Linked DNA regions of Homo sapiens. Each later gene encodes a partner of the first gene's protein in a complex. Each region holds a gene or a part of one and is shown on either strand. Other genes may lie near its edges. The genes, in order: CACNB1, CACNG1, CACNA1C and STAC3.

The links.
Region 2: CACNB1 (region 1) and CACNG1 share a complex: the UniProt entries of both Homo sapiens proteins name them as parts of the calcium channel complex.
Region 3: CACNB1 (region 1) and CACNA1C share a complex: the UniProt entries of both Homo sapiens proteins name them as parts of the calcium channel complex.
Region 4: CACNB1 (region 1) and STAC3 share a complex: the UniProt entries of both Homo sapiens proteins name them as parts of the calcium channel complex.

The regions. Positions count from the first base shown.
Region 1 is NC_000017.11:39,187,656-39,194,676, forward strand, and holds part of CACNB1 (voltage-dependent L-type calcium channel subunit beta-1), read right to left. Parts: intron 5,843-7,021; exon of another isoform or gene 5,824-5,842; coding exon of another isoform or gene 5,794-5,823; intron 4,440-5,793; exon of another isoform or gene 4,340-4,439; coding exon of another isoform or gene 4,301-4,339; intron 3,939-4,300; coding exon 3,819-3,938; intron 1-3,818. UniProt on the Homo sapiens protein: Regulatory subunit of L-type calcium channels. Regulates the activity of L-type calcium channels that contain CACNA1A as pore-forming subunit.
Region 2 is NC_000017.11:67,040,277-67,047,555, forward strand, and holds the start of CACNG1 (voltage-dependent calcium channel gamma-1 subunit), read left to right. Parts: upstream 1-4,277; 5' UTR 4,278-4,384; coding exon 4,385-4,613; intron 4,614-7,279. UniProt on the Homo sapiens protein: Regulatory subunit of the voltage-gated calcium channel that gives rise to L-type calcium currents in skeletal muscle. Regulates channel inactivation kinetics.
Region 3 is NC_000012.12:2,685,966-2,692,986, reverse strand, and holds part of CACNA1C (voltage-dependent L-type calcium channel subunit alpha-1C), read right to left. Parts: intron 6,822-7,021; coding exon 6,718-6,821; intron 4,541-6,717; coding exon 4,208-4,540; intron 2,848-4,207; exon of another isoform or gene 2,777-2,847; intron 2,181-2,776; exon of another isoform or gene 2,088-2,180; coding exon 1,788-2,087; 3' UTR 1-1,787. UniProt on the Homo sapiens protein: Pore-forming, alpha-1C subunit of the voltage-gated calcium channel that gives rise to L-type calcium currents. Mediates influx of calcium ions into the cytoplasm, and thereby triggers calcium release from the sarcoplasm.
Region 4 is NC_000012.12:57,248,188-57,255,800, reverse strand, and holds the start of STAC3 (SH3 and cysteine-rich domain-containing protein 3), read left to right. Parts: upstream 1-4,613; 5' UTR 4,614-4,808; intron 4,809-6,070; exon of another isoform or gene 6,071-6,163; 5' UTR 6,164-6,164; coding exon 6,165-6,230; intron 6,231-6,492; coding exon 6,493-6,760; intron 6,761-6,997; coding exon 6,998-7,095; intron 7,096-7,602; coding exon 7,603-7,613. Other genes in the region: R3HDM2 (R3H domain-containing protein 2), read left to right, coding at 688-1,028. UniProt on the Homo sapiens protein: Required for normal excitation-contraction coupling in skeletal muscle and for normal muscle contraction in response to membrane depolarization. Required for normal Ca(2+) release from the sarcplasmic reticulum, which ultimately leads to muscle contraction.

The DNA.
Region 1 (7,021 bases):
GTACAACTTCCTGACAGTAGTGGTGGTTACTTGGATGTTTACTTTATAATAGTTCCTTGAAATGTGTATGGACATGGGCAGGGTGTGGTGGCTCACACCTGTATTTCCAGCACGTTGGGAGGCCAAGGTACGTGGATCATCTGAGGTCAGGAGTCCGAGACCAGCCTGAACAACATGGTGAAACCCCGTCTCTACTAAAAATACAAAATTAGCCAGGCGTGGTGGTGGGTGCCTATAATCCCAGCTACTCAGGAGGCTGAGGCAGGAGAGTTGCTTGAACCTGGAAGGTGGAGGTTGCAGTGAGCCAAGATTGTGTCACTGCACTCAAGCCTGGGCAACAGGGCAAGACTCCATTTCAAAACAACAACAACAACAACAAAATGTATACTGACACTTTGGGAGGCCAAGGCAGGTGGATCGTTTGAGACCAGCCTGGCCAACATGGTGAAACTCTGCCTCTACTAAAAATACAAAAAAATTAGCTGGGCATGGTGGCACACACCTGTAATCCCAGCTACTCAGGGGGCTGAGGCATGAGAATCATTTGAATTCAGGAGGCAGAAGTTGCAGTGAGCCAAGATGGCACCACTGCACTCCAGCCTGGATGACGGAGCAAGACTCTGTCTAAAAAAAAAAAAGTCTGGGCGTGGTGGCTCACGCCTGTAATCCCAGCATTTTGGGAGGCAGAGGCAGGTGGATTCATGAGGTCAGGAGTTCAAGACCAGCCTAGCCAAGATGGTGAAACCCTGTCGCTACTAAAAATACAAAAATTAGCTGGGCGCAGTGGCAGATGCCTGTAATCCCAGTTACTTGGAAGGCTGAGGCAGGAGAATTACTTCAACCAGGGCAGCAGAGTTGCAGTGAGCCGAGATCATGCCACTATACTCCAGCATGGATGACAGAGTGAGACTCCGTCAAAAAAAAAAAATGTATACTGAATTGGCTTGTGTGGTTTTCTCCATGTATATTAACTTTTACAATAAAAAACAAGAAAGCAAAATGTGGAATTCAGCCCTCTCAGGGTAGAGGCGGGGCACTCAGGAATGAAAAGGGTTGGGGGTGGGGAAGCCCACAATGATACCCAGAAAAAATAATAATAATAGCAGGCCGGGCACGGTGGCTCACTGCTGTAATCCCAGCACTTTGGGAGGGCAAGGCAGGTGGATCACTTGAGGTCAAAAGTTCGAGACCAGCCATGACTAACATGGTGAAACTCTGTCTCTACTAAAAATACAAAATTAGCATGGTGTGGTGGCACATGCCTGTAATCTTGGCTACTTGGGAGGCTGAGGCAGGAGAAACACTTGAATCTGGGAGGTGGAGGTTGCAGTGAGCTGAGATGGTGCCACTGCACTCCAGCCCGGGCAACAAGAGCGAAACTCCGTCTCAAAAACAAAACAAAATAAATTAATTAAATAATAGTTATAGGCCGGGCGCAATGGCTCATGCCTGTAATCCCAGCACTTTGAAAGGCTAAGGTGGGTGGATCATGAAGTCAGGAGTTCGAGACCAGCCTGGCTAACATGGTGAAACCCCGTCTCTACTAAAAATATAAAAATTAGCTGGGCGTGGTGGCACGCACCTGTAATCCCAGCTACTCAGGAGGCTGAGGCAGGAGAATCACTTGAATCTAGGAGGCAGAGGTTGCAGCAAGCCAAGATCGTGCCATTGCACTCCAGCTTGGGTGATGGAGCAAGACTCCGTCTCAAAATAAAATAAAATAAAATAATAATAATAATAATAATAGCAGCCAGGCACAGTGGCTCACACCTGTAATCCCAATACTGGCTTGAGGGAAGGAGTCTGAGACCAGCCTGAGCAATATAGGGAGATCCTGTCTGTTTTGTTTTGTTTTGTTTTGAGATGGAGTTTCGCTCTTGTTGCCCATGGTGGAGTGCAATGGCGCAATCTTGGCTCACTGCAACCTCTGCCTCCTTGGTTCAAGCAATTCTCCTGCCTCAGCCTCCCAAGTAGCTGGGATTACAGGCATGCGCCATCACACCTGGCTAGTTTTGTATTTTTAGTAGAGATGGGGTTTCACCATGTTGGTCAGGCTGGTCTCAAATGCCCGACCTCAGGTGATCCACCCACCTCAGCCTCCCAAAGTGCCGGGATTACAGGCGTGAGCCACCGCACCCAGCCAGCCCTGTCGGTTTTTAAAAAATAAAAGGGGCAGCTGGGCACAGTGGCTTACGCCTGTAATCCTAGCACTTTGGGAGGCCGAGGCAGGCAGATCACCAGGTCAGGAGTTCTGAGACCAGCCTGGCCAACATGGTGAAACCCCATCTCTACTAAAAATACAAAAAAAAATTAGCCGGGCATGGTGGCGGGCGCCTATAATCCCAGCTACTTGGGAGGCTGAGGCAAGGAGAATCGCTTGAACCTGGAAGGCGGAGGCTGCAGTGAGCCGAGATCGCACCACTGTACCCCAGCCTGGGCGGCAGTGCAAGACTCCATCTCAAAAATAAATAAATAAATAAAAGGGGCTGGGCACAGTGGCCCATGCCTGTAATCCTAGCACTTTGGGAGGCCGAGGCAGGAGGATCACTTGCACCCAGGAGTTCAAGACCAGCCTGGGCAACATAGCAAGATCCCATCTCTACAAAAAATAAAAAATCAGCCAGGTGTGGTGGTATGCCTCTATAGTTCCAGGTACTCGGGAGGCTGAGATGGGAGGTCAAGGCTCCAGTGAGCTGTGATCACGCCGCTACACTCAGCCTGAGTGACAGAGAGAGACCCTGTCTCATAAAAAATAATAAATATTTAAATTTATTTATTATTATGTTTTTTGAGACAGAGTCTCGCTCTGTCACCCAGGCCGGAGTGCAGTGGTGCGATCTCAGCTCACTCCAGCCTCCGCCTCCTTAGTTCAAGCGATTCTGGTGCCTCAGCCTCCCGAGTAATTGGGATTACAGGCGTACACCACCACACCCAGCTACGTTTTGTATTTTTAGTAGAGACGGGGTTTCACCACATTGCCCAAGCTGGTCTCGAACTCCTGACCTCAAGTGATCCGCCCAACCGGGCCTCCCAAAGTGCTGGGATTACAGGCGTGAGCCACAGCACCTGGCCTAAAATTAAATTAAAAAAAACAATAATGACAGTAATGACCATTTAGTGTTCCAGGTACCATGTTACACACTTAACACATATTCTCTCATTTATATTCATCACAAAAATAAAAAATCCTCTGAAGTTAAGTGGTATTATTATCTTCCTTTTAATGTGACTTTCCTAAGATCACACAGCTATTAAGAGTCAGGACCAGGTCAGGCACGGTGGCTCACGCCTGTAATCCCAGCACTTTGGGAGGCTGAGGGGGGCGGATCACAAGGTCAGGAGATCGAGACCATCCTGGCTAACATGGTGAAACCCCGTCTCTACTAAAAATACAAAAAATTAGCCGGGCGTGGCAGCCAGAGCCTATAGTCCCGGCTACTTGGGAGGCTGAGGCAGGAGAATGGCGTGAACCCGGGAGGCGGAGCTTGCAGTGAGCCGAGATCATGCCACTGCACTCCAGCCTGGGTGACAGAGCAAGACTGCAACTCAAAAAACAAAAAAAAGAAATTTTTAGCACTTATCAAGCCCTTATTATGTGTGGAAACAGTATAATAACACGCACTTATTATACTTATTATACTGTATAAGCAGGCAGGTATTATAGCCCACATTGTGCAGGTGAAGGACAGAGGAGCAAGGTTCAGGGGTACTAGGAAGTGGCTGGGTCAAGACTTGGCCCTGGTTCTGTCTGGGCTCTCTCTACAGCCCAGGACTGGGGGAAATCATGCCAGCACAGCCCCTCCCCACATCTTTCTCACCTTGGCCTTCTCGAGCTGCGCTAATGCCTGGCGCTCTGCTTCCTTCCTTAAGGCTTCCCGGTCCTCCTCCAGAGATACATCAGAGTCTGATGGACGGCTGGTGTAGGACTCCGCTGAGCCCTGAAAATAGAGAGAGCCAGATCAGGGCCATTGCTGCCCCTCCCAGCTCCTGGGCCTGGGAAGGCATGGAGGTGCCACCCATCATGGATGCCTCGAGCCCCAGCCAGCCCAGCATGACACCACAAGGGCTAAGACAAGGTGGTATTAGGTGGAAGGGACCAGGAGCTGAGATTTCTCAGGCCCCTGGGGAAAGTGTGGCCCTAGTGAGGGTGACAGCAGCAAGCAGGAGATGAAGGCAGGCCCAAGGACAGCTGCTTGGGGCCCAGGGAGGGGTGGGAACCTGATAGGGGCACAAGGCAAGGGAGGAATGCCAGGGACGAGTCTCTACTCCCACTGCTCCTTCCCTCCCCTGCCCCCAGCACCCGCTGAGATAGACTCAGCTGAGGTCCAGTGGCATCCATTCCAGGGACTGCAGCCACCAGCTTCGGCCTGAGCTCTCTGCACTATCAGCCGTGGACGGCCTGCTCCGCAGGATGGGGCCACCACAGATTTTGCCAGCTTCTGTTCAAGGGTAGAGGGAGACAGACTCCTACCTCCCCTGCTCCTCTTAACTGGTACTGCCAGAATCAAACTTCACTACTTACAGCCCCAGTCCTCAGGCTCTCCTAGGACACAAGAGAACCCAAGAGTTCCAGGCTGGTACAGACCGAAGAGGCAAGTTAAGAGCAGGATATGGGACAGGGCTTTCCCTGAAATGAGGGCTGCTGGGTGCCAGACAGCTGGCTTTGACCACAATGACCAACCCAGAGCACAAGGGACTCCTTTAGGGATGCACACATATGTGTAAGACACATGTTGCCCGTACAGACCTGGTAGTGGGAATGCACGTGCTTCTTCATGTGTGTGTGTGGATGTGCAAGTACAAGTGTGTGGAGGAGGGTGTGCTCTATAGTTGGCTGCATATGACTGTGTGTGTACAGCCACATGTGAGTGTACTGGGGGGGAGCTCCCAGACATCTGTGACCCTGAGGTTGGGGGACATGTGAGGGCAGGAGGCAAGAGGTGTGGATTTGTGTGACTATGCAGGGGTGGTGTTGGACAAGGCATAGGAGGTTATGTGGCAAAAGAGGAGGACTGCAGGGATGTAGGGGTTCTTTCCTGAGGGCAGAAAAGGGTCACTTGGCCAGGAAGGTCCATAAGTTTGGCATGGAGGGGACCTGGGAAAGACAGAAACAAAGTCCCACCTCTCCCCAGGGGCCTCAGGTCATTAGCTGGTGCAGCTGCCCATCTCTTTCCCAGACAAATAATGAAAATGGGAGACCCGCGGAGGAAGGGTTGGGGTGGAGCGGGGGTCACTAACAGAAGTGGGGAAAGAGGCATGAAGGAGAGAAGGAGAGAAAACCAGCGTAGCTCCCCCTCTCCCCCCTGATGGGAGCACGCAGAGTCAAAGAGCCAGGGAAACAGACAGGGAGACAGACTAGCAGAGAGGCACTCACCGACCCCAACACACACGCGGGCATGCGCGTGCACACACACACTCACCAACCCCAACACAAATGCAGGCATACGCGCGCACACACTCACTGACCCCAACACACATGCAGGCACGCGCACGTGTACACATACACACACAGTTACATGCACACACACAGACACACATGCAGACGCACATGTGCGGGCAGACACACACACATATGCAGACACACAGGTGCACACAGACACACATGTAGGCATGCGCACACATACACACACATATGCAGACACATGTACGCGCATACACACGCACACATCAGAAATGGCAGAAGACAGGAAACAGTGAGGAGGCATGGAGACACGCTGGAGTAAAGGCTGCCCTCCGTCAGCTTTCCTGAGAGGCTGTTCTACCCGCTGCCACCCCACTCCATCCCCAGCTCACCACCACCACGGTCCGGCTGGGCGCCTCCATCCCGGCACCCTCAGTGCCTGGCCCTGCTGGCCTAGGGGGTGGCCCAAACTGCCCGTTCCCTTGGGGGCTCGGGTTACAAGCAGAGTTGCTACATGTGCAGACTGCTAGGGTATATTTAGCTCAGAGATGTGGCAAGGACTGCCCCCCTCCACCACTCCCCACCACCTACCGGGGATCAGAGCTGGGGAGCTAAAAGGAGGAAGAATTGGAGGCTGGGGTCTGACTCCCTGGGTTGGCAAACACTGAAGGAGCCAAGGTCCTTTTCTGCCAAGAGGGGCAATAAAAGCACAGCGTCATTCTTCCCAGCCCTGGCCATGTCCTGCAACAGGAGGGATGAGGGGGTGATTGAAGAAAGGACTTCCTGTCTGTTCCTATACTTAGAAAAGGCTAGAATGAAGCCTCCCCTTCCTGAACCTCCCAAGTCAGACTGAGGCTCACATGTGCCAAGTGCTGTAGAGACAGAAGAAACGGAAAGAAGGGCCTCACTCTAATTAGTGGTGGATCTGCCTGGCATCACCCTCGCTCCTGGCCCAAGGTGGAAGGGAGGGGCTCATCTCCAGAGGACCCCTCCTCTGTGCTGTCTTCTGCCCTCAAATGCCCTGCCCATTTCCTCTTCAATACACGCCTTTTCCTTGTCTAATCCCAAGCCCCTCTCGCCTTTTTTGGGTACCAGGCTTTGGTGAGATGCTAAGTAGTCATAGCAACCACATGCCTCTCTCAGTCCCTCACCCTGAGCCTAAGATGGCCCAGGGTTGACAGATGAGAGCAGCCGCTTACTGACTGAGCACAGAAGACCCCAGAAAGCTATTCTCAGTTACACCCTTTCAGGCAGGGGTGCTGGGCTATCATCTTCTCTATTATAAAATCAACAGCCTCATGCCTCAACCACCCCCACCCCCGTCACCATCACCCTTTCTCTGTGCTTCTTAGACAGTCATGTCTCGAGGTGAGGAGCGTGTTTCCCTGGCCAGGACCTCACCAGGACTACAGGGACCCAAACATCCTTGCTCTGCTTTTCCTAGGACCTGCCTCCACCCAACCCTGTCACAGATTCTGGGGGAGGACATGGAAGCAGACAGCCGGCAGGGGGAGTGGGTGACAGCCCGAAGCAAGCTGGAGGGAGGCAGGCCAGGCTGTCCCTGAATGAGATGACGCAGGCCAGCAGGCAGCAGGGGAGGGTGCCTGGTGCTGGGGGAGG
Region 2 (7,279 bases), about 28 Mb from region 1:
TACAGAAATTAGCTGGGCATGATAGCACATGCCTATAATTCCAGCTACTTGAGAAGCTGAGGCAGGAGAATTGCTTGAACCCTGGAGGCGGAGATTGCAGTGAGCTGCGATCACACCACTGCACTCCAGCCTGGGTGACAGAGGGAGACTGCATCTCAAAAAAAGAAACATAAAAGTCTTTAAATCACGGGCTGCCTGCTCTCCTCCTGCAGGGGTGTACAGGGCGCACTTTGAGAACCCCAGCTGCGGGCTCAAGTCTCCCGAGGGGCCCATGTCCTGCCTGGAGCTCCTATTCTCCACACCTCTCCACGTAGGCTGAGTTCTGTCCCAGGAGACCCCACAGCCCCTCCCAGTATGATCTCAGCTGCCCTAACAGTTTGTGGACTCCTCAAGGGGAGGGAGTGGGTCTTCTGCTTGGCAGGACAGAAATCCCAGCGTGGGCCTTATTGTGCCCCAACTTAACTATGGCCCAAGCCCTGGCTGGCCTGTATGTTCTGGAGTCCTCAGGAGGGTCCTGGATCAATGGGGAGGGAAATGGCCACCGTGGCAGGGCAGCCAGAAAAAGCTGCCAGAAGTGGAGGCTAGCAGAGGGGGGTTGCGAAACAAAGGGAGTTGGACTGGTGCAGATAGGATAAAAACATCTCAGGGGTACAAGTAAGCATCAACATCTGGAGAACAGAACAGGAAAGAGCCCCCCAAATTTCCCACAACACTGTGAGTACCAGGCATCCAGGGCGATTGATTTCTTACCATTACGTCCTTCGCTGAATCAAGTACTCAGTACTCTATTAAATGCATGACGGCCACTCTCTGGTCTCCTCTTATGAGAACACTGCTACAGTTGGGCTCTGTGTCCCCATCCAAATCTCACCTTGAATTGTAATAATTCTGTGTCATGGGAAGGACCCAGTAGGAGGTAATTGAATCATGAGGGTGAGTCTTTCCTCTGCTATTCTCACGATAGTGAATAAATCTCACAAGATCTGATGGTTTTATAAAGGGCAGTTCCCTGCACGTGCTCTCTTGCCTAACGCCATGTAAGACGTGCCTTTGCTCCTTCTTCACCTTCCGCCATGATTGTGAGGCCTCCCCAGCCATGTGGAACTGTGAGTCCATTCAACCTCTTTCCTTTATAAATTACCAGTCTTGGGCATGTCTTTATTAGCAGTGTGAGAACAGACTAATACAGACACTGCTCCCATCACAAGGGCCCCACTTCCATGAGCTCATTTCATTATCTCCCAAAGATCCCACCTCTACACACCATCACACTGGGGGTTAGGCTTCAACATATGAACTTGGGGGAAACATGATTCAGCCCATAGCGCCTACTATGGCTAAGCTGGTCCAACGCACTCCCTCCAGCCCTTCCACCTGCTCCGCAGCCAGGCCCGTTGCCTTCATTTTACAAGAGGCAGCTTAGAAAGGCTAATGACTTACTGGAACGTGCACAGCTGGAGCCAAGCAGTGCAGGGATTTGCTCGGGGCTGGCCAGCTCCATCACCCTCTAGCTTGGTCCCCCTCTCGCATGCTGCCTCCCTGAGATGCTCCTCTCCCTGTTGCCCTGGAAAGGGTGAGATCTTGGGGGAGGACATGGATGTTGCCCTGCCCAACTTTCAGCAAATGCCTGTGGCTACTGAAGTCCCTTCCTGGCCCTTCCAGGCCCCTGGGGAACCAGGCAGGCAGCGCGGCAGCACCTCTGTGAGCAGAAAAGGTGTATTTGAGGGAGCTTTCAGTAAACAGGGAAGAGAAAGTGGACCTGCCCGCAGTAGCTGCAGCTGCGGGTCTCCTGGTGCGACTTACACAAAGATGACTTCAAAAGGCAGAGGCCATCAATCTTTAATGCTTTCACTGCACTGGGGCGGAGGACTCTGGACCCCTGCATGGGGCACAAACCTGCCCCCCATGGAGGGAAAGAGCAGCAGAAGTTCCTGGTTGCTGTCCTCACCAAGGCCTGGCATCTTTGAAGGGCCTGCAATGTCATCATGGCTGGCGCTGGGTGCACCCTCTGGGCTGGGCCCTTTCAGGGTGCTTTCCAAGGCCGTCAGAGGCTCTTGGCACCGAAGAGCTTAGGGCATCCACCCCCACCACACCAGGAAATTCAAAAGACACTTTCATTTTTCCAATGACACTGTATTTACTTGTAATGCTAAAATTAAATAGCTTCTTTCTAGATTTTCTGTCTTAAAACACTGGAACCCTCTTCTGGCTCCCCAGCTACTGCTTTGCTGGGTGCCTGGCACTCAGTAGGTCTAATCAAGCTGTACAGCACCTCCTGAGATCCCCAGGTGCCAGGATCCTGAAGCTGGGCCCCCACAAACAACAAGAGAGGGCTCAGAGGCTGCAGCCATGTCCCAGCTTCTGGGAATTCCCCATGGAGATGGTCTACCCACCTGGTGACAGGCAGTTTCTCCACGAGCTGAAGCAGGGGCGGTGGCATATGTCAACAGTCAGTCAGTGATCAGTCAGTTGTGATGGATTAGCACCCACAGGGAACACAGAGGTGGGGGGACAGGGAGGAAGGGAAGCAGAGATGAGAACAGTGGGGAGATAAGCTCTCAGGAGATTGTAATATGTATGAGAGACTGATTTTAAAAATATGGAAGTTTGGATGGAACTGCAATAAGCACAAGCCAGTGGCTGGAGATGCGAGGGTTCAGCTCAGCCCTGGGGCTGTTCACCAGGTAGTCCTGGCTCCTCACATCTCCTCTCTGGGCTGCAGATTCCTAATCTGTCACAATAGATCATGAAGTTTCTTCCCAGTTCCAACCATTCGTTATGACTTTGGGCTCTGGGTCCTGAAACCTGGATTCCTCATTTTCTCGCTGTGTGACCTTGGACAAGTGACTTCATGTCTCTGAGCTTCCATGTCCTTGTCTGTGAAATGGCAGTAACCGTTGTAGTCCCCTTGTGGATTGGTGTGAAGAGTAACTGTGACAATGGATGAAGGCTTAGCAGGGTACCTGGTAGATAGTAAGCACTCACTGAAGATGAGCCACTGTTCTGATTATCATCATCATGAACTTTCTGTGATTCTAAGGCTGGAGGCCGAAACATTTCTGTCCACATGGGCAGAGTCTCTGTAAATCGTGTCAATCTGAGGCCAGGATTTTGAAGCTCAAGGCCCCACCCAGCTCAGGAGGCTATTCCTGGTCATGCGTCAGCCTCTCGGCTACACCCAAAAAGGGCCACCCTGTGAGCCGAGAAGGAAGAGATGACACAACCCAGGAGAGATGTAGAGGCTGGAGCCTCGGAGACCAGCCTGGGGGCCAGGCGGGTGCACAGGACCGTCGGAGGGTGGTCGATCCCGGGCTTTCTGTGTTCTCTGCACGCCCATGAGCTCCTAATGATCCCCTATAAATCAACCTATTCATTCTTTTTTACTCACACACTTATTTTTCAAATTCAAACATAACTGGAAAGTCGTTATCACCTGCTGTTAATAGAAGGCAAAACCAAACAGTGCCCTGAAAAACAGAATGACCAAGTCCAGCAGGATTCCTCGTCCTCTTCGGGCCGTTCTCGCTTTGTTTCAAAGGACACTTTACAGGCAATAATGACACTGACCTCGAACAGAGCTTTGCTCTGGACCCAGTTTTGGGGATGGAAAGAGAATTGAAAAGGAAGTAATGTTCTCGTGGAGGGATCAGAGTTGGGTAAGGCCAGACCTGGGAACCACCTAAAACCTTCCTATGGTTTGGGGGATGCCGTGGGGTTTGTGGCTAAAACGCTTGCCTAAGAGGTGGACTCCACAGGCCCTGGACTGGGTTCCCGGGATGTCATTAGACAGAATCCTAGCCCCTCAGATCCCAGGATGAGAACCTACTCACTGCCCTGCCGGTAACAGGCTTACCCCGTGGGAGCCCGGGACAGCCGTGCAGCCCGCAGCTCCTGGTCTCCTCCCCTGGCCTGGGCTGCCCTTTCCCATCAGCCCAGAGCAGGCAGATCCCCACCCCCGGGGCCCTGCTGCCCACCTCTCGCCCTCTCCCAACTCAGGCACCCTGAGCTGCTACTCACAGAGGCCTCAATCTACCATCCAGAGCCTTCTCTCCTTGCCACCCTGCCCCGCCGCACTGGGGTATTTCTGGCTCCCAGAGGGGCAGAAAACCCTGAAACCCGAGCAGAAGCTGTCCTCGGTGCCACGCCTGGAGATGGGCATTAATAGCAGCCTCCCTCAGGCCCCTGACGCGTCTGGGCAGCTGCTCAGCACGTCCCGCGTCCCTCGGCCCCAAGGCCAGCCCACTCTGGCTCAGCCAGGCACACTAAACTTAGTGGCCACTCCCAGCTCGACAACCACTGCCACCCCCCAAGCTCGGCTTGTCACCTGCCCTAGGAGACGCAGCCGCCGGACCCTGCCCAGGGCACCCACGCCTCGGCGACCACCATGTCCCAGACCAAAATGCTGAAGGTCCGCGTGACCCTCTTCTGCATCCTGGCAGGCATCGTGCTGGCCATGACAGCCGTGGTAACCGACCACTGGGCTGTGCTGAGCCCCCACATGGAGCACCACAACACTACCTGCGAGGCGGCCCACTTCGGCCTCTGGCGGATTTGTACCAAGCGCATCCCCATGGACGACAGCAAGACCTGCGGGCCCATCACCCTGCCCGGGGGTAACGTACCCACCCTCCGTCCCGATCCCCACCTCCTGCTCTTCCCCGTCATCCCCCTGGCAAAGTTGCCCTTGCGAAGGAAGGCAGGTTTCTCTGCCTAGAAATAGGGCAGCCGCCCAGCCTTTTCTGCCCAGGGAAGAAGATATGAATTGCATGTGTGGTGCTGGTGGCTGGGGCTGGGTTGTAAGACGAGGGCGTTTGTCCCAGCTATTTCTGTCTGGCTGGACCTTGGGGCTTTTTGCCCAGAGCAGAGAGCTGGGCAGGCTCAAGAAAGGAACTGCAGCTCTACCAGCCCAGGGACTTCTGGGCCCCACCTGCTCACTCTCTCCCTGCAAAGAAAAGCTAGGTGGCTCTGTGTCCTCAGGCTAGGGGGACCCATGGGGCTGGCAGGTTTGTTCCTGGCCTCAAGGCAGGAGAGGAGAGAGCATAGGCGATGGAATTTGCAGGGTCCTGTGCAGAATGAAAATGCAGGGTTCCTTGCTCCAAATTACCAAGGATTTCAAGGCAGTGACAGCAGCACATGAAACCACACATGGGCCCTTGTGGGCTCTGGGCCTGGAGCAGCTGCACAGGTTGAATGTCTGTGAAGCAGGACATGGCTGTAGGCTGTAGGTGAGCCACCTGCCCCCACCTTCTTTTTTTTTTTTTTTTTTTTTTTGAGACAACTTTGTCGCTCAGGCTGGAGTGCAGTGGCATGATCTTGGCTCCCTGCAACTTCTGCCTCCTGGACTCAAGCGATTCTCCTGCCTCAGCTTCCCCAGTAGCTGGGATTACAGGCATGCACCACCACACCCATCTAATTTTTGTACTTTCAGTAGAGACGGGGTTTCACCATGTTGGTCAGGCTGGTCTCGAACTCCTGACCTCAGGTGATCCACCTGCCTTGGCCTCCCAGAGTGCTGGGATTACAGACGTGAGCCACCATGCCCGACCTCCACCTGTCCTTTTGTCAGGACTTCAGTCCTCTATGCATCCTGTCTTAGCTCAGACCCTGTCAGAGTTACAAAGCATTTCCTCACCCTGTAATTTAAGCGTATTCCTCGATTTCCTACCGTGTGACCGAACCACACGTTGAAGGTAAGGTCCTTTTCAGGAGTACCTGGTAGTCGCGTGACTAGCCTCTATTCTGCAAATGCAGAGGCTTCTGGATTCTTAGCAAATACAGCACTTTAGAGGAAAGAGTGCTCATGGAGACCAGGCAGCCAGGGATCTAATCGCCATTGCCCACTACCCTCAAATGACCATCCAGGGAGGACAAAGCTCATCTCAGCCTCTGCTTCTTCCTCTATAAAATATGGGACTGACTCTCAGCAACGTGAGATCCCTTCCTCGGCTTACAGACGCCCATCCACAGTGGCAGTGGAGCAGAGTGATGTCAGTGTGATGTCCCACCTGGTTTTCAGGATTATTTCCTCTTTTATCAGACTAGGTGTTCCTTGAAACCTGTCCTTCAAGGACACTAGGGCTAAGTCCCCAAAGATCTTGCAGTCTGCTTGTGAGGCAAAGAGCACAGACCCCATCCTCCCTTGTCTCTGCTCCCTCTTCCTTCCCTCCTGCTTGCTCCAGAGATCCCCTCCCTTGTTCAGCCCCACTGGAGGCCCAGAAGACTCATAAGTGCCCAGCTGTTGTAGAAACACCAAGTCCCAGGGCTGAGAGTGACAGGTGTGGCCATGTGCTTGCAGGGTATCGCATAGCCCGGATGCCCATGCCCCTTGGCCACTGCTGAGCACACCCATAAACAGGAACAGCCTCCAGCCAACTCCCCTGGGCAGGGCAGGGCAGGGCAGGGCAGGGCAAGGCAGCTTCTTCAGGGACCACACATGGGGACGTGCTGTTACAGTCCTGTTCACCCGTCCTTGGAACCATCTGCCTTTTAAAGTCAGAGCAGAAGACTGGGCAGTGAGCAGAATCCACACAAGGAAGAGACAGGCTGGTGAGAGGTGACTGGACCAATTGCAGGGGGCCAACAGGCATTGCTTGGCCTTGAGCCTGACAGGATCTACCTCTTTGCCTTCTTAGCCTAACCAGCTATGAACCACACCTCCCACACTTGTGACACTGAGCACTACCTTTCCCCCAGTAATCTTCCAAAATATGTTCCTGCCTTTTTCCCTCTCTTTTCTCTGCAAATGGACATCTTTCTCCTTCCCCATCTGCCCTTCTTGTGCTCCCTGGGACCACTCTTCTCTGGAGGGAGGAAGTGGGTTCATATGTGGCCCGTCATCTATTATTAACAACAATAATAATAATGGCACATACATGTAGCCCTGTGTGCCAAATATTGTTGTAAACGCTTTACATATATTAACTTTGAAAGACATCAGGAAAAAAAATGATAGAAAAAGAACCTCCAAAAATAATCTTCTCCATAATAGTAATGAGAAGGCTGGCAGAAATGGTCAGAATCAACATTTTCAGAACTCTGGAAATTAACCAAAGTCTTGCAGCAATCCAGCAAGAAAAATGGGTGAATCTCAGGAGGACCAGTGAGTTCTGTGGTGTTTTAACTTGCCTTATTCCTGTTTCCCTTTCCCAGCTCTGTGGTAACCTTGCAAACCAACATTCCGTAATCACAGTGAAAATCAGCATCCCAGTAGCCTCTGGAGGGGAGAGAATGGGGTTGGATCAAAGGCCCATTCCCAGAGAGTTGTCATTATTTGACCTGT
Region 3 (7,021 bases), on another chromosome or scaffold:
CCCTTTCCCCCAACCACATATAGAAAAGCACTTGAGTTCAAAGGTAAAGCTTGTCACACTCCAAATACAAAATGATTTACTTTACATGCAGCAAAATATACAAGAAGTGAATCCGAAAACCAACTTAATTCAATTCATTATATTCGCTTGGCACAATTGCAATTCAGTTTTAAAAAAATATTTGAAAAATACTGAAACTGACCTGAATTCAAGTATAACGGTTTCTTCAACAGAAACATTATCAATGCAATAAAACATTACACGGAATATATTGAAGCAAAATGCCTTCTTGTGTTTTTCCCTTAAATTTCTGTCTTTTTTTAAAATACAGTTTTAATGCCAACACAACTCACAATTGTATTTTTAAATGAATATTATTGCATTGTTTTTGCATATCTTGTGGGACAGAAAATGCAAAGAGTTACTGATTCCCGTTTCAGAAGCAGAGACAGTGGTTTGTTTTTGCTTTCAAACGGCCCCAGATTCAGATCTTCCCACAGCTAAACCAGAAAGGGGGGACTGCGTAGTCACTGGTGTGCACGGGCACATGGTGTGGGTGCATATACACGGGCAGGACATATGCACACAGACAACCCACCACACACACACGCGTCGCACACACTCGGAGACTCTCTCGCGCATGCTCCTCTCTCCCAAACCCACCTGTACACCCAGCATAAAAAGGAACCCAACTCTATCACCCACATGTGCAAGACCACATCAAGTGCATTGCCAGTTACCTTTCCATTAGATAACCGAACCAAACCAGAACAAAAATAGGTTACTACCTAAGGAAATGATAACAAATTATTGGGCATACACAATGGTTGGTAAAACTCTCCTGCAGCGGCTTCTATTGAACCTCCGTGGAAAAAGGAAACCACAACCGTTTAAATAATACAAGAAAACCAAACCCGATGTACATTGGCAAAAGTGAAAACAGAAAGGTGAGGGGGCTACAGGACTTTGTAAACACTCTTCTTCCTCCCCTCCCGCTGGGAAAGCAAAATAAAACATTTAAAAAAAACCAAAACCGAAAAGAAACTGCAACATGCTGTCAAGAAAAGTGTCAAACCACAAAACAAAAGAGCGCTCAGCGGAAGCTCAGCACCACCTGGTTGGGCGGAGCCGGCGGCGCAGCTCCTCCCTCGCGCTGCCTGCGGGCCGGCGGCTGGCCGGGAGCTCGGCGTGGCCCGTGCCGGTCGGGGGATCCCGTCGCAGGTGGGCAGGGACGGAGTGAGCCGCACCACTGCCGGCCCGACGCCCATCCCCAGAGCTCCGCGCCCCTGGAGGCCTCCTCCTCCCTCTCCGGGCCGGGTTGGGGTCCTCCTGGAAGTCCTGCCCCGCTCCCTTCTCCAAATCCGCAGGGCCCTGGCTCTAGGGAGACAGCGAGGCTCGTACAGAATATGTGCAAATGGTTTCTACAAGCAGAGTCGAAAGACACCCGTTTGCTGTAGGGTCCTTTTGGTGAGGGCGCGCGGGAAGCCGGGGTGCTCTCCCCGCGGAGGCGCGGCCGGGCCCGGGGCCTGCGAGCTGGGAGAGGGCAGGCGCCTTCCTCGCGCCCCGGGACCCTCGCCGCCTCCTCTCCCCGCCTCTGCAGACGCAGCCGGGCGCCTTCCTCCCGGAGGGCGGCTCGCGCACCCAGGCTCCGCGTCTGGTCCCAACAGAAATGAATGAAGACGCTGTTCCGGTTAACTCCAGGTCACGAGAACAGTGAGGCACTTCTGAAACGAACCCATTAGGAACATTGAAACAAATAAAAAAAAGCCCGCATCTGGCAGCGCCCACTACAGGCTGCTGACGTAGACCCTGCTGTCCTGGAGCTCCTCCTCACTCGGTCGACCCCGCGCGCGCACACAGCCCGCGTCCTCTTCGCCCCCGGCTCGGTCCTGCCCCGCGTCCCTGCAGTTCACAAAGGGTAAGAGGGCGCCATTGGGGCTCTGTGGGGCGCCCCCGCTGAGGATGTTGTCGGCCGCGCTCTCCATCTCCTCTATGGTCATGTCGCAGGCGTCGGCCAGCTCCTGGGTGGTGACCTCGATGAACTTGGGATCTTGAGCAAACTGCCCCAGTCCTTCTGAAATCAAGACCTGAAGGAGCGGGGTGGGAGCCATGAAGAACCAAAGGAACATTACTCCTGGAGCCCAGCTCTTCCCTTGAGGGCTAGAGCGAGGGGGTATCTGGTAGGTCACTTGGGGAAGTGTGCGTGTGTGCACGTGTACGTGTGTGTGTTGGGAGGGGCACCCATGGGGAACAAGTGGAGATGGAGCATCTGCCAGAATTAGGGATGTGCAGGCCAGAGAAGTTTTGGCTGGGGTGGTCAAACACTGTCATCAAATATATGAAGACTTGCTTATGGCCCAGCACGGTGGCTCACACCTGTCACCCAGCACTTTGGGAAGCCCAGGCAGAAGGACTGCTTGAGCCCAGGAGTTCGAGACCAGGCCCAGGCAACACAGGGAAACTTCGTCTCTACAAAAAATTTAAGAATAATTAGCTGGGTGTGGTGATGCACACCTGTGATCTTAGCAAGGCCAGAGACTGAGGTGGGAGGATCATTTGACCCCAGCAGCGCCAGGCTGCACTGAGCTGTGATTGTACCACTACACTCCAGCCTGGGTGACAGAGCGAGACCCTGTCTCAAAAAACAACCAAAACAAAAACCAGAGAAGGTTTGGCTCTCAGAGGGGCCGGGGGGTTGCCCTGATGCTGTATCAGCAGATCCCAGCCTGCCTCTCTCCTTTCTGACACCCACTGAACCTTTATACTATTCTTTCAGAGAAACCATTCTCCCTGGTGAAACTGCTGAGACAGGCCCACTGCCCATTGCCTGCTGCTGCCTTTCCAGGGGTGAGGTATCTGTGCAAACACGGCGCATGCCCCTGCCTTGCTTCTGCTGGGAAGGGCCAGCAGGTGACCCTTAAGCTTCTCTGTCCTCCCTACCGGCTGCTTAGTGCCTGGCTATGGGAAAATCGGCTCCTGAGCCAGCGGGTCGGGGGAAGCTGAGTGCAGCCTGGCACTCGCTCCTTTCAGGCATCTGTTTGTCTTGCTCCTTGCCCACGCCACTCATTCTCTCCTTGCCCTGCTTAGTTTTTCTTTGGCACTCCTGACCTTCCTGATGTGTTATATATGTATGTGTTTATTATCTGTCTCTCCTCACCATGATGTGAGCTCATGAGAGCAGAAGCTCTGTTTCTCAGCTGTGTCCCTGTACCTAGAACAGGGCCTGCACATGGTAGGCGCTCAGGGAAGGTCTGTGAAATGAATGCAGGATGATCGAGGCCACAGGAATACCAGACTTTGAGAGGTAAACCTTGGAAGCCACCTGGTTTAACGCCCCACCTCCTGCACCACAGCCTGACGCCCGGATGAGCACAGTCTCTGCTTGGCTATGTCTGATGATGGGGGGCTCACTACCTTTCAGGCAAGCCCCTCTCATCTTGGAAGAGCTCATTTGGGAAGGTCTTCCCCATGTGAGCTGAAATCTGTCCGCTGGTGGGCTGAGCCTGCCACCCTTTCCCCATCCCACCCGTTGCAGGTGTGAGAGGTGTATCGCACCCTCCAAAGTCACCTCCTCTCCAGGTTTTCTTCCCGAATTCCCTGAAACGGTTCTCCTAGGAAATGGTTTCTAGGAACCTTGCCATCCTGGTCATCCTCTGTTGGGTTTGTTCCAGTGTGTCAAAGGTCCCTAATAATGTGGTGCCGGGATTGCACTAGATGCTCTGACCAGGCAGAGCACAGTGGGACTGAAAGCTCGCTTGTTCTAGGCTAGTGGCTCTCAACCTTGCTACACGTTAAAATCATCGAAGAGCTTTAACAATCATCAGTTAATCTGTCCCGGGTTTCCAAAGCTCCCCAGGTGATGCTCACGGGCAGTCAGGCCTGAGCACCTTGGATCTTGCCTGTCTGTGTATAAAGGCAGCCAGGCTCACATTTGCATGTCGAGCAGCTGCAGTATAAGGGATAAGTTGCTCAGTGGTTTCTGCCGCCCTCTGCAGTGGGCCCAGCCTCAAGAGAGCCCATAGCATCTTGTGCAGTCATGGCTTTCCGCACACGAGCCCTCCTGCAGCCCTGAGAGGGAGGGTCTTTCGGGCTCAGATATTGACTGCAATGAATTTGGCAAGAGCCAGGTGCTCCCTTCTCAGCCCCGCATGCCAAGTCCCCTTGTTGCCCGTGGCCTCTCCCCCCTGCCCATCTGCGAGTCACCTACCGCTTCCACCAGGCTGCTGGCACTGCCGTGGAACTGCCTCCCTGGGGCCCCAGCCTGGCTGGGCACCATGAGGGAGACGGGCCGGACTCTCCGGGCGGCGCTGCTGCCCCCGCCACCGGGGGTGGTCTCAGCCCAGGAGCCGCAGTGGATGGATGGGAAGCTGCTGTTGAGTTTCTCACTGGACTCGACCCCCTCAAGCCGCAGGGTGGGGACGGGCTGTGGGGGCCAGCCTCGGCTGCCAGGTGTGGCTGGTGGGGTGGCAAAAGGCCTAGGGAATGAGGCAGGGGAATGGCTTCTCTGGAGGAGGGGGCTCAGGCCTGCCACTGCCAATGCCTGCGGACACACAAGGAGTGTGAGTTAATAGGAGTGGCCGACCCCAAACAAGGCAGGCCCCTGCTTCTGAGCAAGCACTGCTTTGCAGCTGCTGTGTCCAGCTAGCTCCACCTGCCTGGTATTCCCATGCCATTATTTTCCCCTGTCGGTCCTATCTCAACCTGGCATGACTTTCAACTATCTCAAAATACATCTTAGGATCATCTGGGTCTGAAGTGATCTCTTTCTCCTGTAACTTCTGAAAGCTGGGATTGGGTGAAGTCGTGGTAACCTGCTTTTAGCCCTGGCCTGGTCACCTGTCAGCTGTGCATTCTCTCGCTCTTGGTTTTGTCCTCAATAGAATGGAGAGCAGGGTGAGGCCTGCATGTCTGTAAAGCCAGAAAACGAATGCTGTCTATCCATCTGCCCTGTGGGGCTGGTGTGAGGCTCAAGCGCAATGAGGTCTGTGAAGAAGCGCTGTGCACCTCACAAAGAGTTGGGAAAACCAGTATTTGTGGTTTTAGTTCTCACAGTTAATGGGGCCATTCATAATGCCCTGCCAGTCTCTAGCTCAGGTTGTCTTTGAGCCATTGTTAAATCCGGTGCTGTATTGTGATTAAAAGATTCAGGGCTGGGAGCAGTGGCTCATGCCTGTAATCCCAGGACTTTGGGAGGCCAAGGCGGGCAGATCACCTGAGGTCGGGAGTTCAAGACCAGCCTGACCAACACGGAGTAACCCAGTCTCTACTACAAATGCAAAATTAGCCAGGCATGGTGGTGCATGCCTGTAATCCCAGCTACTTGGGAGGCTGAGGCAGGAGAATCACTTGAACCCGGGAGGTGGAGGTTGTGGTGAGCCGAGATCGTGCCATTGCACTCCAGCCTGGGCAACAAGAGCAAAACTCTGTCTCAAAAAAAAAAAAAAAAAAGTCACACGGTACGCCCTCTGTCCCTGAATATTCTTGAGCATCCTGAGGGTAGGGACCAGGCCTGTCTGGCTGTTGCCATGACAACCTGCCAGGGCAGAGGCTCTGCAGGGTGAGCTGCTCTGATGGGATGTGCTCCCGGGAGAGAGCGACACTGTGGTGGGGAAAGACCACCTCTAGGGTCACAGAGTACAGGAGGAGAAAGAGATGAAGAGGAGAGTTTCGTGCCTACCAGTACGACAAGAACAGATAGGTGAAATCGACTTCTAGAAATCTTTTAAGATAGCACACACAGTGTCCCCACATCCTTCCACCTCCTGCCCCTGCCCATGGTGGTCCTCAGCCTGGGGCTCCTGGGTCCCTGGGAATCTGAGAAAAGTGTAAGGCCATATTCATTATTTCAGAAAGCCCAGTGGAAGACAACACCACACAGGCTAAGAAAACCTGTTTATTTTTTGGAGCTGAAGTACTATCAACTCAGCCAGGCCACACTGGCCATCTCATGCTGATTATGACTTTTGATTGGCAGTTGAATGCCTTTGGGTACAAAGCATAGGTCTATTTAAAACATAGGTCCATGCTATAAAAGAGTATAACTTTAATAAGGTCAGAATGTTGGGAAACCCAGGTTTAGACCTCAGTTTGCCTGGGGTTAATAGACTGGCCTTAGATAACACTGAAGTTCAAAGATACTAAGGCATGTTTGGTCCTGGCATCTTGGATTTCACTGTCTCAGCTGGAGTCAGCCATGCCAAGAGACATTTCATTTATGGAATCTCCCTGGACCTGCTTCCCACGGATGTCATTCCCTACTCTTGACCATGTTGCTGGTGGGTTCTTTAATCACTTCTTTATGTCACTGGATGGATTTTTGTGTGGCAAAATTTCCAGGTATATTCAAACTCTAGGTACAAGTACATCTTCCTGAGTGCCCTGAGGCATAGGCCAGTGTCAGAGGCGTCAGTGGCATCTGTGGCAGCCTAAGAAGAAAGCTCAGGTGGAACCTGCAGCTGTGGGTCCTCAGGATCACACAAAGAGCTCCTGTGCACCAGCACTTCCTAGGCCCCCACCTGCGATGCTGCAGACCTTGCCGTGGCCCTCACCTGCACAGGAGTGTGAAGCCCTACAGGGATGGCTCTTAGGGCAGGGGCAGGACGTGCCAGCCATCTGAGACAGGCAAGACCCACTGAAGTCTTCAGGATTTGTCCGTCACCCTGGGGACTGTCTGGCCTGCTGGCAGGTGACAGTGGCCTGTCCAAAAGTGTGAGCTACCTGATGATGAACCAGATGCAAGGGCAGGACTGTCTTCTGAGAGATGTCTCCCCCTCGGTCCTTCTGTCGCTTCAGACATTCCAGGTGGAAGGAGGCCCTTCGACCTGCAAAGCCAGCCAGAGAGCCACCATCAGGGCAGGAAAACAGGGCACTGGCCTGTGACAGTTTACACCCTGGTGGGGTGCCAGGAGCAGTAACTATGGCCCGAGACGCTCCTCCTTTCCCCTCCCCTCGTCTGAGACGTATTCTGGTGTCCAGGGCTCATCCCTGCACACCCTGCCTTTGGAATGTTGTCTCCTTGCTT
Region 4 (7,613 bases), on another chromosome or scaffold:
GAGGAAGATCATGGTAAAAAGTGGGAATAACACAATTATGGGAGTTGCCTCTTATTAACAAAGAGTTTTCTAATTAGTGTCCTGTCCCTAATCTACGACATCTACCTTTGGTAGTCCTAGACCCAGTTTAGGAGAAGATTGGTAGAGAATATGGGGGAGAAACTCTCGTCCTACAAGCCTCCCACTAGGTGAACAAGATCTGTCTTGGGATTTGGAGCAATTTCCTAAACAAGGAAAGGAAGGGAAACTTGACTTCCTGAGATGATAAGAAGGAAGAATCTATTTGAGCCAGCCTCTGAGTGGGAAGGGAACTATGGAACATATTTCAGATTGATACATTATTGTTAAAGAACATTAGCAAAAGCCACATTTTCTTCATAGCAGTAGCACCTTGTGAGAGAACTGAGGTATAGGTTCTTAGCTCAGAAACCCAGGATTCTGATTCCCTGTCCCTTCTTTCCTGTATCTCTGGGCTAGGAGAATAGAAAGGTTCATTTGTTTTTCTCCTAGTTGCCCTGATCAGAGCTGGGATGGTGGGGAGGGGAAGAAAGGGCTAAGAGAGAAAGGCCAGGCTTTTGAAGACATTGTATACAGACTTAGTCAGCTGGACACTTCTCTGCTGGGCTGCTGTCAAGTCCTTCCTGTCCTATTCCTCTCACAACCATGTCCTCTCTCCTCCCCTTCCAGTCCTGGGGCGGGTGCTGGAGGTGACAGATCTCCCTGAGGGCATCACCCGTACTGAGGCGGACAAACTCTTCACGCAGCTCGCCATGTCTGGCGCCAAGATCCAGTGGCTCAAGGATGCTCAGGGGCTGCCTGGAGGGGGTGGGGGGGACAACAGTGGGACTGCTGAGAATGGCCGCCACTCGGACCTCGCTGCCTTGTACACCATTGTGGCTGTGTTCCCCAGCCCCCTGGCTGCCCAAAATGCCTCCCTTCGTCTCAACAACTCCGTGAGTCGCTTCAAACTTCGAATGGCCAAAAAGAACTATGACCTGAGGATCCTGGAGCGAGCCAGCTCCCAATAAATGGAGGAGGGGAAAGGGACTGTCACAGAAGGAGCAAGGGCAGGGTGGAGGGGGTTGAAGGATCCTGACAGACCATGGACAGAGGCAGGAAGTAAGGAAACTGATGTTAAACTGGAACCTAAGACAGTGATGAAGATGGAAACACAGATACCTACACTGGCATTGGACTCCTTCTTGCTCCCCTGCCATGGGTCCTCTCTTTTTCCCTGGTTGACCCCCCTTGCATCACTCTTCTTCCCATCCTCTTCTTTTTTTTTTTTTTTTTTTTTTTGAGACGGAGTTTCGCTCTTGTCACCCCAGCTGGAGTGCAGTAGCACGATCTTGGCTAACTGCAACCTCCAGCTCCTGGGTTCAGGTGATTCTCCTGCCTCAGCCTCCCAAGTAGCTGGCACTACAGACACGCGCCACCATGCCCGGCTAATTTTTGTATTTTTAGTAGAGACGGAGTTTCACCATGTTGGCCAGGCTGGCCTCAAACTCCTGACCTCAGGTGATCCACCTGCCTTGGCCTTCCAGAGTGCTGGGATTACAGGCGTGAGCCACTGTGCCTGGCTTCCATCCTCTTCTATCATTTTTTTAAATCTCTTCTCCTATCATAAAATTAATTTCTCATTTTTTGGTCAGGTAGAATTGGGAAAGTCCCACACTGTCCTCCTATTACCTTAACATCCCAAGCTTCCTTTCCTTTTTTGGTCTTTATGAATATATTTATATGGACAGAATTAAGATAAACAAAATTGATTGCCCCATTCTCTCACTTCCCCATCTTGTCTTCCTAGACCCCACAGAGTTAAAACTTGGGATTCCCCTGGCCCCCCCAGAACACTTGTATATTGTTTGTTTGAGGTTCGTGCCGCAGTAACAGACACAGTATTTAATTGCACATACAGATGTTTGCTGGGTATATTCACTGTAAATTTTATTTAATCTGTTTTTTTGTTTGTTTGGGGGTTATTTGGGGGGAGGTTGGTTTTGTTTTTAAATATAAAAAAAAAAATCTGTCACTGGACATCAGTCACTGTTTCTCTGTTGCCGCCCTGGTATGGGTAAAGGGTTGGAGGCCCTGGGTAGGTATAGCCCTACAGCTGTTGGAGGTGTTTGTCGTGGGTTGGGATGGCTTTCTCTAGCATACGCACACTATTTTAACACCATTCCCTCTGTCTCATCCTCTTCCCTGTACACGGTTCTGATAGATGGCTAGATCTCTAATGGGACCATGGCTTTGGGCTCTCCCGGTTCTGCCACTGTGGTTCATCGAGCATATCACTTCTCAACTCTGGATCTGTGTCCAGATCAGTAAAATAAGAGACTTGGACTTAGTAGGTGACCTCTAGGTTTCCTTCCAGACTATTAATTCTGTGGTACTGTGTACTCATTTAGGGCCCTTGTAGTTGAGTTTTGAGATAGGGTCTTGCTCTGTCACCCAGGCTGGAGTGCAGTGGCAGATCTCAGCTGACTGCAGCCGCCTCCCGTGTTCAAGCGATTCTTGTGCCTCAGTCTCCCGAGTAGCTGGGATTACAGGCGCGATCTAGCATGCCTGGCTAATCTTTTTTTTTTTTTTTTTTGCTATTTTTGGCAGAGACAGGGTTTTACCATGTTGCCCAGGCTGGTCTTGAACTCCTGGGCTCAAGTGATCTCCCGCCTTGGCCTCCTAAAGTGCTGGGATTACAGGCATGAGCCACCACTCCCAGCCCAGCTCGTCTTCTGAAAACCCTTTAGGGATGGAGAACTTGGGCCTTTCTTTTTTTTTTTTTTTTGAGATGGAGTCTCGCCCTGTTGCCCAGGCTGGAGTGCAGTGGCGCGATATCTCGGCTCACTGCAACCTCCACCTCCCGAGTTCAAGCAGTTCTCCTGCCTCAGCCTCCTGAGTAGCTGTGCCCCATCGTGCCCAGCTAATTTTTGTATTTTTAGTTGACATGGGGTTTCACCATGTTGGCCAGGCTGGTCTCGAACTCCTGACCTTGTGATCCACCCGCCTCGGCCTTCCAAAGTGCTGTGATTACAGGCGTGAGCCACCGTGCCTGGCTGCCTTTCTTTAATCCTAAAGCTGGAGGATTGGGTTTTACCTGTCAGGGACAGAAGCAGATTTTTATTACAATGAAAGCTACAGCAACTGAACTCGCAGTGCCAAGATGCTGTATTATCCAAACATGCTCAGCAGTCCCTGTCCTATGTGGCTGAAAAAAGACGAAGAGCAGAAGTCATCTTGCCTGCAAGATGGAGCTTTTCCTTTAGAGCATCTCAAAGCAAGCCCTGTTGTTCTGCAGCCTGTCAGAGCAGGGCCATTAAAGAACCTGCAGAGTCAGAACCATCCTGCACCCCCTTTTCAAACTCCCCCCTTAAATAGAAAAAAGTAGTGGGTGAGAATGACAAAGCACGTTGCCCTGGAAATCTCTTGGGTCCAAGTAGCTGTATCCCTAACGACGATCCTACAGGAGCTTGCCTGACCCAGTCTCCAACACAGTCCTTTATTTCTTACAGATACAAGGAATAGAGCAGCACTGCATTGCCACCTCTAAATTGCTCTCCCCTGAGATGGGAGTATCTCCTCTTTCATCCATGTCACAGCCCAAAGAGTAGAAGGGTGCACCCCTGTGAGATGAGAATGGCATCTGTCTCTTTGATCCATCAGTTATATACTGAGGCATCAAAGGTGGGAGATGGAATCAGGGAATCAAAAGGGTTTAGGAAGTGTGAGGGTTGGCCATCCTACCTTTAAGAGTTTGCAGTTCTCATGAGGAAGGGGACATTACTTAGAAATGATTTAAAAAATTCCTTATGTGGCAGCTATATGCTTCTGTCCAGTGTTAACTGGCCCTTTTTAATAGCCCTGGTAATTCCCTTCAGTCTGAGGACAAAATTTTACAAGAAGGAGGGTGGGGAGATGTCTCTGGGAGCTGCTGGAGGGAATGAAGCAATACTACATATTCTTCACTTTCTTACAGGATAGCAAAGTACTCCTCCAACCACCTACAGATAAAAAGCAATCTAGCCATGCACGGTGGCTCACACCTGTAATCCTAGCACTTTGGGAGGCCAAGGCAGGCGGATCACCTGAGGTCAGGGGTTCGAGACCAGCCTGGCCAACATGGTGAAACCCCATCTGTACTAAAAATACAAAAATTACCTTGGCGTGGTGGTGGGCGCCTGTAATCCCAGCTACTTAGGAGGCTGAGGCAGGAGAATCGCTTGAACCTGGGAGGTTGCAGTGAGCCCGGATCGCTTCATTGCACTCCAGCCTGGGCAACAAGAGCAAGACTCTGTCTCAAAAAAAAAAAAAAAAAAGCCATCTAGTATGGCTGATAGGAGAGCTCTATGAGTTCAAATTAGTCTTTTTTTACCCTGTCTCAAAAAATAAATGAAAAATAAAAATAAACTCCCCTTAAATGTTAAATGAGCATGAACAGAAACTGTCCCTTCCTGAATTCAGCCATTATTCACCTGTTCGCCTTAGATGAAGAATCAAGGAACAGCAGCTCTAGGGGGTTGGGAGGAGTTAGGGTCCGGCCCTGCCCCAGACCTCTCAGTGTCCAATTTCTCTGTGTCAGCTGTGTTTCTCAGCTGTCCACTTTCCTCCAGCCCTGTCATTTCAGCCCTGACACCAAGGCAGGAGGCTAGGAGGTCTACAAATAGCGACTGGGTAGCTGGTGTGAACACAGGGGGTACTGGGGGGGCTTAGCCCCCAAGGAAGAGGACCAGTTTTTCCCCAGCACCACCATCAAGGCCTCGAGGCTCCCAGCTCCCTCTACAGCCTGTGGACTGACTTAGGGAATCCCGAACGTAAGTTACCTCTTCATCCTCTTGATTTCCACGACTGCTCACCCCAGCTGCCCTGATCTATAATCTACTCAGCTTCTTCATTTCTCTCCTTGTCTGTGAGTCTTTTGGGTTTTAGGCGTAAAATTATTATTCTACTCTAGGATGAGTTTGGATTGAAGCGGGGGGTGGGGGTGGGGGTGGGGTGAAGGGAATGAAGTAGTAAGGGAAGGAAAGGCTCATATTACCCTGAAAACTTAAAATAGCTGAGCCCTGAGGCAGGCTGGGACAGAACTAGGCACAGGGCCCCCAGGGCTCAAGAAAAAAGTAGGGGAGGACAAATGTCTCCAGTCCATCCTTCCTTGTGTGCACACGAGGACACACATTAAACCTCTTGAAGAGAGGAGATCTGGGAAGGTATGCATCACATCTCTGTTGCCCACAGATTTCCAGGAGAAACAAAGTACCTATAGGAAAATGACGTAAACCACGCAGCTTTGAACACTGTGTAAGGGCTGTAAACTATGGGGTCGCCCCTCAGGATGGAAGGATGAGTATCAGTTTGAGGAACTAATTGGGAAGCTCTTTAGTCTGTTGGGCTTTTTTTTTTTTTTTTTTTTTTTTTTTGAGACGAAGTCTTGCTCTGTCACCCAGGCTGGAGGGCAGTGGCACAATCCCGGCTCACTGCAACCTCCGCCTCCCGGGTTCAAGCGATTATCCTTCCTCAGCTTCCTGAGTGGATGGGATTACAGGCGTCCGCCACCACACCCGGCTAATTTTTATATATTTAGTAGAGATGGGGTTTCACCATGTTGGCCAGGCTAGTCTTGAACTCCTGATCTCTAGTGATCCGCCTGCCTCAGCCTCCCAAAGTGCTGGGATTACAGGCATGCACCACCACACCCGGCCATGTTAAGCTTTTTTCTAGACCTCCATGAAATCTGTTAATAAAACCTGCCAAAGGATCTGTATTTGGCCCAGTGCAGTGGCTCACGCCTGTCTCAACAATTTGGGAGGTTGAAACAGGAAGATTGCTTGAGCTAGTTCGGGACCAGCCTAGGCAACAAAGCAAGACCATGTCTCTACAAAAAATAAAAAAGTAGCCAGGTAGTGTGCACCTTGTGTTCCAGCTACTCAGGAAGCTGAGGTAGGGGGATCGCTTCAGGCTGGGAGGTCGAGGCTGCAGTGAGCCATGATCACGCCACTGCACTCCAGCCTGGGTGACAGAGTGAGACCCCATCTCAACAGTAACAACAGCAAAATCTCTCATCACATTTCTCCGAAAGCCTCCCCTTTGAGGACCACCCTACTGCAAGGGACAGAAAGGGAGAGAAGAATGAAAGGGATTAGATTTCATAGTGGGGTCCAACCTCTTGCAGGATGACAGAAAAGGAGGTGCTGGAGTCCCCTAAGCCCTCCTTCCCAGCAGAGACTCGGCAAAGTGGGGTGAGTCTGGGCCTCTGACCACTGGGTGTGGGGGGCTGGGAAGCCATTACAGCTGAAGAAGAGTGCTTAAATTGATCTCATTTGTGTGTGACTCATTTTTTGCTGGCCAGCACCTGCAGTCCCCAATACCAATACCCCCCTAATCCTGGGGTACATTCCTTGCCTGAAACTAGAAAACTGTCTAGTTTGCTCTAGCGCCCCCCTACTCTAGAGAGGGTGACAAGTCCTTTTAACATTGGGTTTTCTTCACTCCCTCCCTCAGCTACAGCGGCTAAAGCAGTTACTCAGGAAGGGTTCTACAGGGACAAAGGAGATGGAACTTCCCCCAGAGCCCCAGGCCAATGGGGAGGCAGTGGGAGCTGGGGGTGGGCCCATCTACTACATCTATGAGGAAGAGGAAGAGGAAGAAGAGGAGGAGGAGGAGCCACCCCCAGAACCTCCTAAGCTGGTCAACGATAAGCCCCACAAATTCAAAGATCACTTCTTCAAGAAGCCAAAGTTCTGTGATGTCTGTGCCCGGATGATTGTTCGTGAGTCATGAAGGGAAGTGAAGAGAGTATGATATTGAAGGCAGAGGTTTGGGGAGAGGGCATAGGAGAGGAGTATTTGTAGCAGATGGGCTGTGGCTAGAGTTGGTGTAAGGCAATGCTATTAGAGATTGAGCAAGTAGGGTCCCAGACAGAAAAGGAAACCTAAGAGTAGCAGCAGTGGTACAAAGGGAAAGGGCAATCTGGAACCTTATCTGAATTTTCTCCCCCTTTCCCAAGTCAACAACAAGTTTGGGCTTCGCTGTAAGAACTGCAAAACCAACATCCATGAACACTGTCAGTCCTATGTGGAAATGCAGAGATGCTTCGGCAAGATCGTGAGTAGGCTGTGGAGAGCAAGGAGGGGACATGGCCACGCGTGGTGGCTCACGCCTGTAATCCCAGCACTTTGGGAGGCTGAGGTGGGCGGATCACGAGGTCAGGAGATCGAGACCATCCTGGCTAACACAGTGAAACCCCGTCTCTAAATACAAAAAATTAGCCGGGCGTGGTGACAGGTGCCTGTAGTCCCAGCTACTCAGGAGGCTGAGGCAGGAGAATGGCGTAAACTCGGGAGGCGGAGCTTGCAGTGAGCCGAGATTGTGCCACTGCACTCCAGCCTGGGTGACAGAGCGAGACTCCGTCTCAAAAAAAAAAAAAAAAAAAGAGGGGACATGTCACCAGCCAGCTACCCCTTGCTGGTCTCTCCTCCATCCCATTCATTTCTCTGCTTTTTCTTTCTCAGCCCATCTCTTTTTCTGAGAAAGGGTGAGCACTCCTGGGAGAGATAGGCTTCTGGACCTTACTTTGCTACCTCTAATGCTTCCTCTCATCCCATCCTACAGCCACCTGGTTT